Linked DNA regions of Homo sapiens: all the other regions are linked to region 3. Evidence: fine-mapped expression QTL. Tissue or cell type: whole blood. Region 3 holds a variant in brackets; each other region holds the start of a gene. All regions are shown on one strand. Distances are from middle to middle.

Evidence for each region. PIP is the estimated chance that this variant, and not a neighbour inherited with it, causes the effect.
Region 1: TMEM91 starts here. The variant in region 3 is fine-mapped to the expression of TMEM91 in whole blood (INTERVAL, PIP above 0.99).
Region 2: it holds the start of DMAC2, and the variant in region 3 is fine-mapped to the expression of DMAC2 in whole blood (INTERVAL, PIP above 0.99).

The regions. Positions count from the first base shown.
Region 1 is chr19:41,373,871-41,378,980 of GRCh38, forward strand. TMEM91 (transmembrane protein 91) reads left to right here and starts at 2,663. Exons shown (of 4, transcript NM_001098821.2): 1 at 2,663-2,984; 2 at 4,411-4,649. The coding sequence starts at 4,440. RefSeq lists a silencer at 2,779-2,908.
Region 2 is chr19:41,437,973-41,443,082 of GRCh38, forward strand. It overlaps DMAC2 (distal membrane arm assembly component 2), which reads right to left and starts at 1,940. Exons shown (of 6, transcript NM_018035.3): 1 at 1,910-1,940; 2 at 246-442. The coding sequence starts at 1,927. RefSeq lists an enhancer at 1,675-1,844.
Region 3 is chr19:41,416,826-41,422,024 of GRCh38, forward strand. BCKDHA (branched chain keto acid dehydrogenase E1 subunit alpha) reads left to right here. Exons shown (of 9, transcript NM_000709.4): 5 at 2,310-2,471. Among named protein-coding and RNA genes, the nearest start is that of B3GNT8, 7.9 kb to the right of the region's middle. The variant C/T (reference allele first, on the strand shown) is at 2,708.

The sequences.
Region 1 (5,110 bases), 43 kb before region 3:
TTTTGCTATGTCGCCCAGGCTGGTTTCGAACTCCTAGGCTCAAGCAGTCCTCCCTCCTCGGCCTCCCAAAGGGCTGGGATTACAGGCGTGGGCCACCGCACCTGGCCTACAGTATGCTTCATAGAAATATGAAAAGAATGAGAGCAAGGTTGAGATAGAAAGTAACAGGGCATCCCTCCTGAGTAAAACAATCCTGCCCCCTCACGCTCTCGTCTACCCTCCCGTGGGTCTCCCTGCTTCTGTCGTCTGCCAGAAACTGGCTGAGCCAAGTGCACTTGCAGACGCCATCTGTTCTCCCTGGGAGTGGGGCCGGTGCCAGCGCCAGCATCTGGACTCTTGGCAAGGAGCCCTGGAGCCCTGGAGCGAGGGAACTCCGGCCCCACAAAGGCCAGGGAATCCTCCAGTCTGGTGAGACGGAGGGCTTCTGGGAAGGGAGGCCTATACAAGGCTCCATGAAGGAGGTGGAAGCTTGCAAGACGATGATAGTCTTGTAATCAGTCCGATGGAGATGGATGTAAATAATAATATTAATAAACACCATCAAATGTGTTCAGAGTGCTTTCTTTGCCAGGCTTTGGATAAATGTTGGATATCTGTTCTTTTTATTTTTTATTTTTCTATTTCCTAGGCAGCACCTAAACCAAAATAGGTTCAGAGAGGCTCCCAATGTTGGACATTTGTTGTTGCAGCAACTCTAAGTACTCTACATATGTTATCACATAAGAGGCAAGGAGCATTATCCCCATTTTGTAGGTGAAGAAATAGGGGTTCAGAGAGGTGAAGGCATTGTCTAGAGGCCACACACTCAGTGACTTAAAGAGCCTGGAAAGGGGCCAGGAATGGTGGCTCACACCTGTAATCCCAGCACTTTGGGAGGCTGAGGCGGGTGGGTCACCTGAGGTCGGGAGTTCAAGACCAGCCTGACTCATATGGAGAAACCCCATCTCTACCAAAAATACAAAATTAGCCAGGTGTGATGGCGCATTCCTGTAATCCTAACTACTCGGGAGGCTGAGGCAGGAGAATCGCTTGAACCTGGGAGGCGGAGGTTGCGGTGAGCCGAGATCACGCCATTGCCCTCCAGCCTGGGCAACAAGAGTGAAACTCCATCTCAAACAAACAAACAAAGAGCCTGGAAAGGAAACCAGGTCTATGTGGGTCCAAATGCTGACTCATGAACATCACTGTACCACGTGACAATCAGAGCATCACCCCCTACTGGACCCCACTCCTCAGCCTTCTTTCCCTAGAAACTCCTAACCCACCTGCCTCTGCTTCCTCCTCACCCATTGGCTTAGCAAGGGCCACAGGAACACAGCCCGGGGTTACAATATGCTGGGCTTGGTACCAGCTGTTTACTGTGGCCAAGTGAGCATGCAAGTGAGCCCGTTTATTTTCTTTTCTTTTTTTTTTTTTTTTTTTTTTTTTGAGACGGAGTCTTGCTGTTTCCCAGGCTGGAGTGCAGTGGCGCGATCTCGGCTCACTGCAAGCTCCGCCTCCCGGGTCCACGCCATTCTCCTGCCTCAGCCTCCCAAGTAGCTGGGACTACAAGCGCCCGCCACCAAGCCCGGCTAATTTTTTGTATTTTTAGTAGAGACAGGGTTTCACCGTGTCAGCCAGGATGGTCTGGATCTCCTGACCTCGTGATCCGCCCGCCTCGGCCTCCCAAAGTGTTGGGATTACAGGCGTGAGCCACTGCGCCCGGCCCGTGAGCCCGTTTCTTTATCTGCAAAACAGGGATTAAAAACAAGCCAACACCCCTTCAGCACTCCTCCGCAAAAAAACACCCCAAAACAAAATAGGCCAGGCGCGGTGACTCACACCTGTAATCCCACCGCTTTGGGAGGCCGAGGCTGCAGTGAACCCAGGAGTCTGAGGCTGAAGCGAGCAATGATTGCGCCACTGCCTTCCAGCCTGGGCGATCAGAGCAAGACCCCGTCTTTTAAAAAATAATAATAAAAAAAAAATCTGCCGGGCGCGGTGGCTCACGCCTGTAATCCTAACACTTTGGGAGGCTGAGGCGGGCAGATCACCTGAGGTCAGGAGTTCAAGACCAACCTGACCAACACAGCGAAATCTCATCTACTAAAAATACAAAAATTAGCTGGGCGTGGTGGCTTGCCCCTGTAATCCCAGCTACTCGGGAGGCTGAGGCAGGAGAATCGCTTGAACCCGGGAAGCGGAGGTTGCGGTGAGCCGAGATCACTCCACTGCACTCTAGCCTGGGCGACAGAGCAAGACTCCGTCTCAAAAACAAAACAAAACAAACAAAAAAACCAAAGTAAAATAGCAGCGACAACAACAACAACAACAAGAAAAACCCGGAGCTGAGAGGAAGAATGAATGCGATGATGAATGTAAAGCGTTTAACACAGGGCTTGGGTACAGTCTGCCCTCAATGAACCAATGATGTACCCCTAGGCAATTTACCTAACCTCGGCTTGCCAGTTTCCTCCCGCGTGAAACAGGACAATAAACGATTATGCCTCTTAGGGTTGTGCTGAGGAATACATGTGTATGTAAGTTTATTTGCAAAGCACTTAGAACAGGGCGCACGGTCCTTGTTGCTGTTATTATTATTGGCTATTATTGCGCAAAGGGGAAGGGAGGCGGGGCCAAGCCAGGAAGGCCCTGGAGAATCCGGGGTGCCCCCTCCTCCGGCAGAGCTTGGGCCTGGGCTCACGAGGAAGGGGCTGCAGTTCTCCAAGGATTCCCGCCTGCTCCCAGACCCCCGGGAGTCGTAGGAACCCGTTCCTGGACGCTGACGTCGGCTTTCAGGGATCCCTCGCCGGACGCCGCGGAGGGACAGAGCCTGGGAAGCCGTCGCCCCGCCCCGTCCCCGCCCCCGCGCGCAGCGGGCCCGGGGCGCTGAGACCCGCGTAGAGCAAAGCGCAAGGTCCCAGCGCCCCTTGGATCCTCGGTGGCAGGGTCCGGGCAAGTGTCATTGCGAGGGTTCAGGAAGCCCCGGCCTGTGATCGTGAGCGGTGAGTGAGGGACGTAGGTGGGTGGGGGTCACAGTCCCTTCCCTGGGTCCTGGAGTTGGGGATGAGAGGGCAAAGCTTTGGCGAGGAAATCGGCTCAGTCAAGGTTTGGAATGAGCAGGCAGGAGGCTTGGGGACCTTCCAGGGGGATCGTAGGACGAGAAGAAGAATATTCTTTCTGGTTGTGTTGCGTGTGTACGTGTATGTGTGTGCTGGGGTTGAGGGTGTTTATGGGGGCGAGGTGTGCAAAGGATTCTGGAGAGCTGGTGCATGTGTGGGAGTTGTGTGGAGTCATAGGTGTGTGGGTGGAGTAGGGCAGGGGTGCCTGGGCCTGATGAGTGGGGCAGGCATGCCAGAGGTCATGAGAATAGGAGAGAGTGCCGGGGTGCATGTGTGCGTGTGTGCACAGGTGTCTGTGGTTTGTGATGCAGTGGGGAGTAGGGTTGTGCACGGAGTCAATTGGGATAAATGTGTAAGAAGGTTGGGGACCTGAAAGGGGTGTTTTCTGGGAGCTGATGTTTTGGGGCAAATATTCAAGGAGTCCTTTGGGAGATGAATGTGTGGAGGTGGAGGCTGGGCTTGCCTAGATGGGGCTGTGTGGCAGGGGACTTCGGGGGGCAGGTCTAGGGGACAGAGGATGGGGAATGTAGACTAGAGTGCAGTTCCAGGCAGCACTGGGGGTAGGGGATGGGTGTGTGTGTGACTGGGAGGGGTGCCTGGGCCTGGATAGGTGGTCACGCGGTATGAACCTGGGATGGATATTGGGGGTGTTTGTGGGGCAGGTAAGTGTGTAAGGCATGGTGCAACAGGTGCTGCAACTTATTGGGGTAAGTGTGATGGGTATGTGGCTTTTGCCTGAGAGAAATGCCCAGAATTTGGCTGGGTGCGGTGGCTCACGCCTGTAATCCCAGCACTTTGGGAGGCCAAGGCTGGTGGATCCCCTAAGGTCAGGAGTTCGGGACCAGCCTGGTTAACACAGTGAAACCCTATCTTTACTAAAAATACAAAAAAAAAAATTAGCCGGGCATGGTGGTGGGCGCCTGTAATCCCAGCTACTCGGGAGGCTGAGGCAGAATGGTTTGAACCCGGGAGGTGGAGGCTGCAGTGTGCTGAGATCATGCCACTGCACTCTAGCGGATCTGCAGTGGTGGATCTGCCTGGGCAACAGATGGAGACTTTGTCTCAAAAAAAAAAAAAAAAAAGAGAGAGAGAGAGAAATGCCCAAAATTGAATGTCCAGACCCCTGAGTTCTCTTCATAACCTGAGGCCAATCTTTTTTTCTCTCTGGGCCTCAGCTTCTGTATCTGTAAAATGGGTCTGAGGACCACTGCACTAACTAGTCTCTGCCTGAGTCTCTCTAAAGCAAGGGGTCAGAGGTTGAGTGAAGTGAGACTTTTACAACTTGTCTTTTTCTTCCCCCTACCCCTAGGAAACCCCTCCTGGAGTTTCCCCAAAGCCATGGACAGCCCTAGTCTTCGTGAGCTTCAACAGCCTCTGCTGGAGGGCACAGAATGTGAGACCCCTGCCCAGAAGCCTGGCAGGCATGAGCTGGGGTCCCCCTTAAGAGAGATAGCCTTTGCCGAGTCCCTGAGGGGTTTGCAGTTCCTGTCACCGCCTCTTCCCTCCGTGAGCGCTGGCCTGGGGGAACCAAGGCCCCCTGATGTTGAGGTAGGAAACAGCAGGCCTTAGTGGAAGGCACGGGAGGGGGCTGGGGTGAGCCCCACTAAGGCCAGCATCTGGCAGGTTGACAGCTGTGCCGATCTGCCTTAGGCCTGGAGTCTCACTTCCCAGCTGTGTGTGGGCTTCTGAGATTTCCAGTTACGGTTCTTCTTGTTTTATGTCTCTCATCTTTGTTGCCTGGCTTTTGGCTCTGTCTTCCCTCTGATCTCAGACTCCGCTGGTTGGTGTCTTCAGAGTGCATGCACCTCTGGCTTTTGTCCACCCTGCTGTCTCCCTCTTTGTGTGTGTGTGTGAGAGAGAGAGAGAGAGAGAGAGAGAGAGACAGGGTCTCGCTCTGTTGCCCAGGCTGGAGTGCAGTGGAGCGATCATAGTTTACTGCAACCTTGACCTCCCGGGCTTAAGCAATCCTCCCACCTCAGCCTCCTGAGTAGCTGGGACCACAGGCATGT
Region 2 (5,110 bases), 21 kb after region 3:
AAATCAGGGTTTGGCTTTAGCCATGTTAGGTTTGAGATGCCAGTTAGACTCTGAGTGGAGCTGGTGGGTGGCAAACTGCCTATGTGAGCTGGAGTCCTTGAGAAGGGTACAGCCTGGAGATGGAGCTGCAAGAGACATCAAGGCTGGCACTGGAAGCCACAGTGCTGCCTGGGAATGGCAAGGACAGGACCTGGGCTCTGGTGGGCCAGGGTCTCCACAGGGTCTTGCAGACCAGGGATTCTCACCGATTTTTCTCATGCACCTTGTACATCTCCCTTTGGAGCAAGTAATCCCTCAGAGCCTCCACATCGTAGAAATAGTTGGTCAGGAACTGGAGTATTGTCCTTTTCTTCTTCTGATTGCCCTCTGGGGCCACTGCCGCACCCAGGCGATGGATGCCCCTGATACGCCCATTCCACATGGGGGCGACCAGGCGCAGGGACTGGGGAGGGGGAGAGGAAAGGAGCTGAGCCTGGAGCCTCCTGGGAGACACAGAGCTGGATCCCCCAGTTCTTGCTCCATGAACCTCAATCCCTCTGCTTCCCAACTCACCCTAAGTTCTTCCTTCAAAACTTCAAAACTGTCTTTGAGATTCCAAAAATTTCCCCATGTTTTTTCCAAGTTCCTCCTCCCCTTAGTGAACCCTAAATTTTCTCGACTAGCCATATATTGTTGATTTTCCTAAATTCTTCCTCTAACTTTCCCCCAAACCCTTATCACTCAAAACCTGCATTATTTGACCTCTTAATTTTCCACAGATTTGCCCCTTAATTACCCAATTCTTCTGCTGGGGTCTTCCCAAATGACTTCTTTCTTTCCCCAGAATATAATCTTAAAAACTTATCTCCAAACCTCAAGGAGAGGGTGCTCTGAGCAATCCCTAAAACCAACCAAGCTTGTCCAACCCGCCGCCTGCATGCAGCCCAACACAAACATGCAAACTTTCTTAAAACATTAGGAGGATATTTTTGTGATTTTTTTTTTTTTTTTTTTGGCTCATCAGTTATGGTTAGTGTATTTTATGTGTGGCCCAAGACAATTCTTCTTCTTCGAACAGCGTGGCCCAGGGAAGCCAAAAGATTGGACACCCCTGAACCGAGAAGGGTATAAAAAGCATGAGCTTTGAAGAGGAGAGTAAGAAAGTCGAGGGGTGTGGCCAATGGGAAGAAGCCCCCAAACTCTTCAATTTTGCTTTCAAGGTCTCCTCTTAATCTACCCCAATTTCTCTTTGCTTTAACCAAATTCTTTTTTTTTTTCAAATTATCTCGATAATTTTACCCAAACCCTTATTTTCCTCAAAAGTTTAAAGCTGCCAACCTCTTTAATTTTCCCTAAATTCATTCCTTGATTTTAAATCCTCTGAAAGAATATCTCAAATTCTCCTCTTAATTTCACCCAGATCATGCCCTTAGAACCTCCAAATTGACCTCTTGGTTCCCCCACCCATCATGCTTTTGAGTTTTCTGTAAAAATTCGTCAATCTCCCACTAACTTTCCTTACATTCATCCTTCGGTCTTCTAAGACCAAATCCCACATCCTCGAACAATCCCTTCCAAGCTCTCTTATCCTACAGGCCCCACCCTTGCCTGTCCATTAGCTCCTTGTGTCATCCCTCCCTCTGATTGGTTAGTCGCGTCGCTCTTCGGCAGCCACTCCCTCATCCCCATTGGATACTCTCAGCCAAGTCCCTGCCTCCTCTCGCTCGCTAAAGCGTCTCCTCCGCCTGCGACCCTCACAGATCCTTCCTGGCCCCCACTAGCCACAGGTTTGCACTCCCAGTACGGGGCTTGCCAGGCTTAGCCTGCTGCCTCACGGCTTTCTGCTCTCGTGGCCGCCAACAGAGGCCCTGAATGCGGAGGCTGTAGAGCGGACTTCAAATTTGGGGCTCTAGGAACTCCGGTCACTTACCGCCCAGGGAGCCGCCATCTTGCTAAGGTTTCGTAACCGGAAGGGGCCGGTCTTATCCCACGCTCCTGGTTCAGCGCGAACTTATTCTCCTGTGGCCACGCCCCGCGTTTTCTAACCGTCCTCTTAAAGGTGCACGCACTTTTTACTCTTAAAGGGTTTAGGGATTGCTCACAGCGCCCTCTCCCTGAGCTTCAAAACGAGACACAGGTCGGGCTCACGCACCTGTGAACCCAGCACTTTGTGGAGGCCGAGGCGAAAGCATCGCTTGAAGCCAGGAGTTCGAGACCAGCCTGGGCAACATAGGGGAGCCTTTATCTCCACAAAGAAATAGGGCAACCTTATATCCACAAAAAATAAAATGTTAGCCGGGCGTGGTGGTGCACGCCTGTGGTCCCAGCTACTCACGAGGCTGAGGCGGGGGGATCACTTGAGCCGGGGAGGTCGAAGTTGCAGTGAGCTGTGATTGCGCCACTGCACTCCAGCCTGGGTGACAGAGCGAGACGCTGTCTCTTAAAACAAAAAATTGAAAAACAAAACAAACCCCAGGACTCCACAATCTTTCCCTAGGAGAAGATGGGGTGTTCTTCCCGGCAGAGTACCTTTCTTTCCTGACTGCAATTGCAGTCTCCCCAAGCTTTCTTATTCTTCCAGCTTCCACTCACTACCTCCTAAAAACAGGGAATGAGGGGGCTGAAAAGCTGACCACGTCATTTTTAAAAATTAGGGTCAGGTAAGAGAGTGGGTGAAGAGGTTAGATGTCAAGGTTAGAGACTGAGGTGAGATCTCAAGACCAGTTTGGAGTTGAAAGCTAGATCGCAGCATGAAGAGCCATTGTGAAGTCTTGTGGATAGAATTATTCATTCATTAGTTCCAAGAATATTTACTGAGCACCTACCACGTGATGGCAGGCACTGTTCTAGATGCCGAGGTTACCATGGTGAGCAGGACAGACCCAGTCCCTCTCTCAGGAAGTCAACATTCTGGGCTGGGAGAGGATGGATGTGGGAGAGGATGAATAAGAAACAAAGGAATCAGCAAGGCAATTTTGATGAGAAGCAGATAAAAAAAAGTGACTGGGTGTAGGGCCATCAGCAAAGGCCTCTCTGAAGAGGTGACATTGAAGTAGAAGTGAATGATAAGGAAAGAGCCATTCAAAGATCTAGGGGAAAAGCGCTGCAGGGAGAGGTAGCCTCTAGAGCAGAGAGGCCTTGAGGTGGGAACCAGCTTGCAGACAGAGATAGGAGACTGGGTTGAGAGGTGGGCAGGGGCTGACGGTGCAGGCCTGGTAGGGTTTTATTCTATTCACAGTGGGAAGAAGGGAGTGTCAAAATCGGATTTACATTTTGTAAAGATTATTTCTGCCAGGTGGAGAATGTACCTTAGAGCAGCGGTCCCTAACCGTTTTGTTACCAGGGACTGGTTTCGTGGAGGACAATTTTTCCATAGACTGGGGGTCGGGGGTGGGGTGGGGATGGTTTTGGGATGAAACTGTTCCACCTGAGATCATCAGGCATTAGATTCTCATAAGGAGCAGGCAACCTAGATCCCCCGCACGCACAGTTCACAATAGGGTTTGCCTCCTATGAGAATCTAATGCCACTGCTGATGTGACAGGAGGCGGAGCTCAGGCGGTAATGCTCACTTACCCGCTGCTCATCTCTTGCTGTGCGGCCCAGTTCCTAGCAGGCGAGGGGCTGGTACTGGTCCTTGGCCCAGGGACTGGGGACCCTTGCCTTAGAGGGCAAGGGTGGATGCAGGGGACCAGTAAAAGAGGCTGCTGTAGCAGTCTAGGCAAGAGATGAATGGGGATGGGGCAGAGGGAATGGTGAGAAGTGCTCAAATCCTGGGCCTGTTTTGAAGGTTAAGCCAACAGATTGAGAAACTAAAAGCAGACGGGCGTGGCTGTGCACGTGAGGAAACTGGAAGGGCAGCAGGTTTAGGAAGGTGGGTGTGGCAGCTGAATAACGAACCCTCTCCCCATACCTGTGAATCCCTGGGCACTGTGACTATGTTACTTTCTATGGTAAAAGGGACTTGGGGCTGGGCGCGTTGGCTCACGCCTGTAATCCCAGCACTTTGGGAGGCCGAGGTGGGCAGATCACCTGAGGTCAGGGGTTTGAGACCAGCCTGGCTAACATGGTGAAACCCCGTCTCCACTAAACATACAAAAATTCGCCAGGTGTGGTGGCGTGCACCTGTAACCCCAGCTGTTCAGGAGGCTGAGGCAGGGGAATCGCTTGAACCCGGGAGGCGGAGGTTGCAGTGAGCCAAGATTGCACCACTGCAGTCCAGCCTGGATGACAGAGCGAGACTCTGTCTCAAAAAACAAAATACATATATATATATATTGTTCATTTGTTTATTTTAAGATGGAGTCTTGCTCTGTCGCCAGGCTGGAATGCAGTGGCGTGATCTTGGCTTACTGCAACCTCCACCTCCTGGGTTCACACCATTCTCCTGCCTCAGCCTCCCGAGTAGCTGGGACTACAGGCACGCGGCAGCATGCCCGGCTAATTTTTTGTGTTTTACTAGAGACGGGGTTTCACCATGTGGCCAGGATGGTCTTGATCTCCTGACCTCGTGATCTACCATTATATATATGTATATATATGCACCTTGGGTCTGAAGGAAGGGTCCAAGGCCGAGAGAGGCCTGCAGTGCTTCCCAGACTTTTCCACAGCAGAAGCCCTCACCCTCAACAGGGATAATATACCCATAGGCAAGTCCAGGGTCAGCAGAATTGGCTGCTTGGCCCTAGGCCAGCAGCCTGGACACAGGCACTCCAGCTAAGGGATTGCTGTCTTGGTGCCCCTGGGAGCCATTCCTGCCCCCAAAGGCACACTGGTGGGAAAGCCCTAGGATGACCCGTGCCAAGAGGACAAGCAAGGACCAAGCTATGGGCAAGCCAGAGGTCAAATGGAGGCTGAGGAGAGGCTGGAGAAGTGGTGGTGGGGGGCAGGTGGAAGGACAGAGGGTGCCAGGCATCTACAGACACTGAGCGCCCCTGAGGGGTCAGGCCTGAGACAGGCAGGGAAGGGTGGAGTTAGACCTCTGCAAGAGGCTATGTTTGAACCCTGTGAGCAGAGTTGAGGTTAGACTTCAGAAGGAAAAAGAAAAGCACAAGGCCAGCTGATTCTCTCTGAAGAGTGGACTTTGGGATACCTTTCCCAGGAACCCCCATCCCACTCCCTCTGCCCTTTA
Region 3 (5,199 bases):
GAGGATTGCTTGAGCCCAGAGGTTCAAGACTGCAGTGAGCTATGATTCCACCACCGAACTCCAGTTTGGGTGACAGAGTAAGATCCTGTCTCTGAGACCAACAAGAAAAGAGGTAGCATGTGTCAAGCAAGAGCAGCAGTTCCCACTGGACCTGGAGTTTCCTGGTGCAAATCAGCCTGTGAGTCTGTATTTTCTTTTTTCTTCAAGACGGGGTCTTACTCTGTCACCCAGGTTGAAGTGCAGTGGCATGATCTCGGCTCACTGCAACCTCTGCCTCTTAGGATCAAGTGATCCTCCCACCTCAGCCCCCTGAATAGCTGGGACCACAGGTGCACGCCACCACACCTGGCTAATTTTTTTTTTGATTTTTGGTAGAGACGGGGTTTCGCTGTGTTGCCCAGGCTGGTCTCAAACTCCTGAGCTCAAGCAGTCCACCTGCCTCACCCTTCCAAAGTGCTGGGATTACAGGCACGAGCCACTGAGCCTGACAAGTTTGTACTTTTAGCACGTTCCCCTGCCCCTGCCCAGTCCTTCTCACATGGGTGGACCTAGTACCACATTCTGAGAAAGCCTGATTCCAAGGTCCTGTATCAGTCCCTTGGACCTTCTTTGACCCTCTACAAGACCTTTCTTTCCCTCCTTAACCAGAGCAACTCCTGTTTCTATCTGTTACATATGCAGCACAGCCACATCTTGTGTGGATTTGTATTATGTCCATTCAAAAGCATGTGTCAGAAAATACCAGTAAACCTGTATTAAAGTTGGATGTTGAAGTAGTGCTAACCACCCTCAACTCTAACTAAAATATCAACAAGTGGGCTGGGCGTGGTGGCTCACACCTGTAATTGCAGCACTTTGGGAGGCTGAGGTGGGTGGATCACCTGAGGTCGGGAGTTTGAGACCAGCCTGACCAACATGGAGAAACCCCGTCTCTCCTGAAAATGCAAAAATTAGCTGGATGTGGTGGCACATGCCTGTAATCCCAGCTACTCAGGAGGCTGAGGCAGGAGAATCGCTTGAACCCAGGAGGCAGAGGTTGCAGTGAGCCAAGATTGCGCCATTGCATTCTGGGCAACAAGAGCAAAACTCCGTCTCAAAAAAAAAAAAAGAAAGAAAATTAGGTAGATCTAGTGGTGCACACCTGGAATCCCAGCTATCTGGGAGGCTGAGGCATAAGAATTGCTTGAACCTGGAAGGTGGAGGTTGCAGTGAGCTCAGATTGCGCCACTGCACTCCAGCCTGGGTGGCCAAGCCAGACTCTGTCTCAAAAAAAAAAAAAAAAAAAAAAAAAGGTAACTGCTGTGTGTAATGTGATCTCCATTAAATTTGTATCTAAAGAGCGGGTTCTGCGGTAAAGAAAGGATTTGGAAAGCACTGTACTAGAGAGCTCCCTCTGAATAATGTTCCCGGTCTGAGTGCTTGCAGCATTGATCCACAGCGCTGCCCCTAAAGTGTTGGTGTGAAGGTTGTCCCACTCTTCAGGCGGGGCAAAGAGCTTGTCTGAGGGCAATCACAAACCCCCTTCTGTCTTCTAACTTCGGAGGAAGGGCCCCCTTAACCTGGAGCGGTTCCCTTTGATGGGGAGGTGGGTGTTCACCAGAGGTTTTGTTTGAAGAAAAGGTTTTACTGCCATACATGGGTTAGAGTACTTCTGTAGTCCAGAAGTTGTAAATTAGTGGTCTATGCTGTTATTTGGTTCATAATGATGATTTTTTTTTTTTTTCGAGACAGGGTCTTGCTTTGTAGCCCAGATTGGAGTGCAGTGGCACGATCTCAGCTGCCTGCAGCCTTGAACTTCTGGGCTGAAGCAATCCTCTGCCTCAGCCTCCCAAGTAGCTGGAACCACAGGCACACATCACCATGCCTGGCTAATGTTTTGATTTTTTTTTTTTTTTGTAGAAGCGAGGCCTCACCATGTTGCTCAGGCTGGTCTCCAACTCCTGGGCTCAAGCGATCCTCCAACGTCAGCCTCTCAAAGTGCTGGGATTACAGGCATGAACCACCATGCCTGGCCATAGTAATGATTTATGGTTAGAATATTTCTTAAAGGTAATTGAATTAGTTGAAAGCACTTAAATACCAGACAATATCTCACTAAGAGAAAGAAAGAAAAAGGCTAGATTTCTGCTTTCTTTTGAAAAATCAGATTGGCCTTGCTGGGCAGAGTCAGTCAGTCTGAACATCAGTCTTCCTCTTAAAACAAGCCTGAGCTTTCCTGTCTGCCTGCCAGCATGCTGCAGGTCACCCACAGGGCTGAACTGTCCCCCTGTACTGCCCACTCGGCTAACCATTGCCTCCTCCCCTCCTAGGTGTGCTGATGTATCGGGACTACCCCCTGGAACTATTCATGGCCCAGTGCTATGGCAACATCAGTGACTTGGGCAAGGGGCGCCAGATGCCTGTCCACTACGGCTGCAAGGAACGCCACTTCGTCACTATCTCCTCTCCACTGGCCACGCAGATCCCTCAGGGTGAGGATGCATGCCCTGTACCTTGCACATGTGCAGACCAATGTCACACCCCTGTCCAGGCCTCAGCTCTTTTGCCTGCCTTCTGGGTGGAATTCTGGGTTGGTGACACCACTAGAGCCCTGGTCTGTGCTCCAGACTTCTTCTTCTTATTTTTTTCTTTTTTGAGACGGAGTCTTGCACTGTTGCCCAGGCTAGAGTGCAGTGGTGCTATCGCAGCTCACTGCAGCCTCCTTCTC[C/T]CAGCTTCAAGCAATTCTCCTGCCTCAGCCTCCCGATTAGCTGAGACTACAGGTGTGCACCACCACGCCCAGCTAATTTTTGTATTTTTAATAGAGACAGGGTTTCACCGTGTTGGCCAGGCTGGTCTCAAACTCCCGGCCTCAGGTGATCCACCCGCCTCAGCCTCTCAAAGTGCTGGGATTACAGGCGTTTAAGCCATTGTGCCCAGCCCACTTTTTTTTTTTTTTTTTTTTTTTTTTTTTTTTTGGTCTGAGACGGGGTTTCACTCTCGTCAGCCAGGTTGGAGTGCAATGGTGCAATCTCGGCTCACTGTAACCTCCACCTCCCAGGCTCAAGTGATTCTCCTGCCTTAGCCTCCTGAGTAGCTGGGATTATGGGCATATGCCATTGTGCTTGGCTAAATTTTTGTATTTTTTGTAGAGATAAGGTTTCACCATTTTGGCCAGGCTGGTCTTGAACCTGAGTTCAAGTGATCTGCCCACCTTGGCCTCTCAAAGTGCTGGGATTACAGATGTGAGCCACTGCACCTGGCCTGTGTTCCAGACTTTGAATGCACCTCTTGTCTGGGACCCTTCAGAAGAGGGCTCTGTTGCTGTCCCCACCCCATTCAGGGGCCTGAAGCCTGTGTGACCACACTCTGGATTTCCCAACCACATGCCTACTGCATTTGTCTGCTCACAAACATAGCCAACGTGTGCACCAGGTTCCACTGTGCCAATGCTTCACGTTCATCATCTAATAAGGACCCTCATTGTGGCCATGGGGACAGAGGTTATTATTTGCTCTTGTTCCTGTTTTCAAGAGCAGGATGCCCGTGTTTTGTGTGTGTGTGAGAGACAGCAAGTGAATGGGAAAAAAAAAAGTGCAGGAGCCTGGCCAACATGGCAAAGCCCTGTCCCTACTAAACATACAAAAATTAGCTTGGCATGGTGGTGCACACCTGTAATCCTAGCTACTCAGGAGGCTGAAGCAGGAGGATTGCTTGAACCTGGGAGGCAGAGTTTGCAGTGAGCTGAGATCGTGCCATTGCACTCTAGCCAAAGTGAGATCCTGTCTCAAAAAAAAAAAAAAGGAAATTGAAGTCAAAGAGGGAAGTCACTCGCTAACGGTCATGTGGCACAGAGGGAGAGGAGCAGGGACTCAAGTCATTGACTGTGTACCTCCAGAGCCTGGGTTCTTGGCCCTGACCTTTGTCTGCCTCAGTCCTCAGAGTCAAGTAAGCTTCCCCAAAGCTTACCGTAGGTGCCCTGAAGTCCCTTCCCTTATAAGAGCTTTTTTGGGAAGCAAACCCACTGGGTGCCAGGCCTGCACCCTCATAGTGTGGAGAACAAGGAATCGGAGCCCCTTCCTGTCCTCCGGGGCCTGTAGCCTGATCTAGGGTTGGTCTGGGCCCTGGCTTCTTTGCCCTAGGGCAGCTGAGATGCATGAGTTTGTGTCTCTCCAGGCCTCAGCACTGTGCCCAGCACAGCAGGAGGCTCCACACCCCTTAGCTCATAGTGTTCTTTTGTTGAGGAACAAGAAGCAGTTTGAGCCTCTTAGGTGGGAGGTGGGCAGGGAAGCTTTCTCAGAGGAGGGGGCATTTAGGGGGCATTTGAGCTAAAGGTAATAGGGTTTCCACAAGGCTGGGGCGTGGCCCTAACCTTCCCTCTGGGTCCCTGCTAAGTCACTTCAAATACACGAAGTTCCTGCCATGTGCCGGTGCCACTCCAAGTGCAGGGAACAAAAGCAACGCAAACCTCAGCCCTCCTGGTGCTGCCATTGTGGTGGGGGAGACGGACAGTAACAGAGATGGAGAGGGAACTCCTGGAGTATATGAGGGTGGGGGTCCTGTAGGGAGCAGCCAAGCCAGCCGGGTGTGGTGCACTGTAGGGGTGGCTGGGGTCCGTCACTGGAGTGACACTGAAGTATGGACCAGAGGATGTGAGGGGGGAGCTGTGTGGTGTCTTGAGGCAGGTGTGAGCCTGGCGTGTTTGAGGAGCTGGGAGGAGCCCAGAGGGGCAGGTGTGGAGTGAGCAGGTGTGGAGTGAGCGGGTGTAGGGTGAGCAGGTGTGGGGTGGTTGGAGGTAAAGTCCAGGAGGTGGTGGGTGGGGGTGCAGATGGTGCAGGTTGGGTGGGGCCTCAAGGCCTTTGCCTGTTGCAGGGATGTCGACTTTTACTCAAAGTGGGACAGGAGCCGTGGGTGGGGAGGAGTCTGCTCTTCCTTGGCCTGGCTCACCTCTTCATGGAATCCGCGGGCTGCCCTGTGGATAAGGGATTGGGCAGTGTGTGAAGGGCTAGTAAGGAGGCTGCTCAGTAACTTGGGCTTGACCAGGGTGGTGCAGAGGAGGAGGTAAGAGGGGTTAGGTTCTGAAGGTGGAGTAGATGTGGAGAATGGCGGGAAGTTTGGCTTGGAGATGATACTGGACTCTTCAGCCTGAGCAGTTGGAAGGGTGGAGTTGCTTTCAGCTGAGCAAGAGGAGACCTGGGTGGGCAGATGCTGGGGGGCATCAGG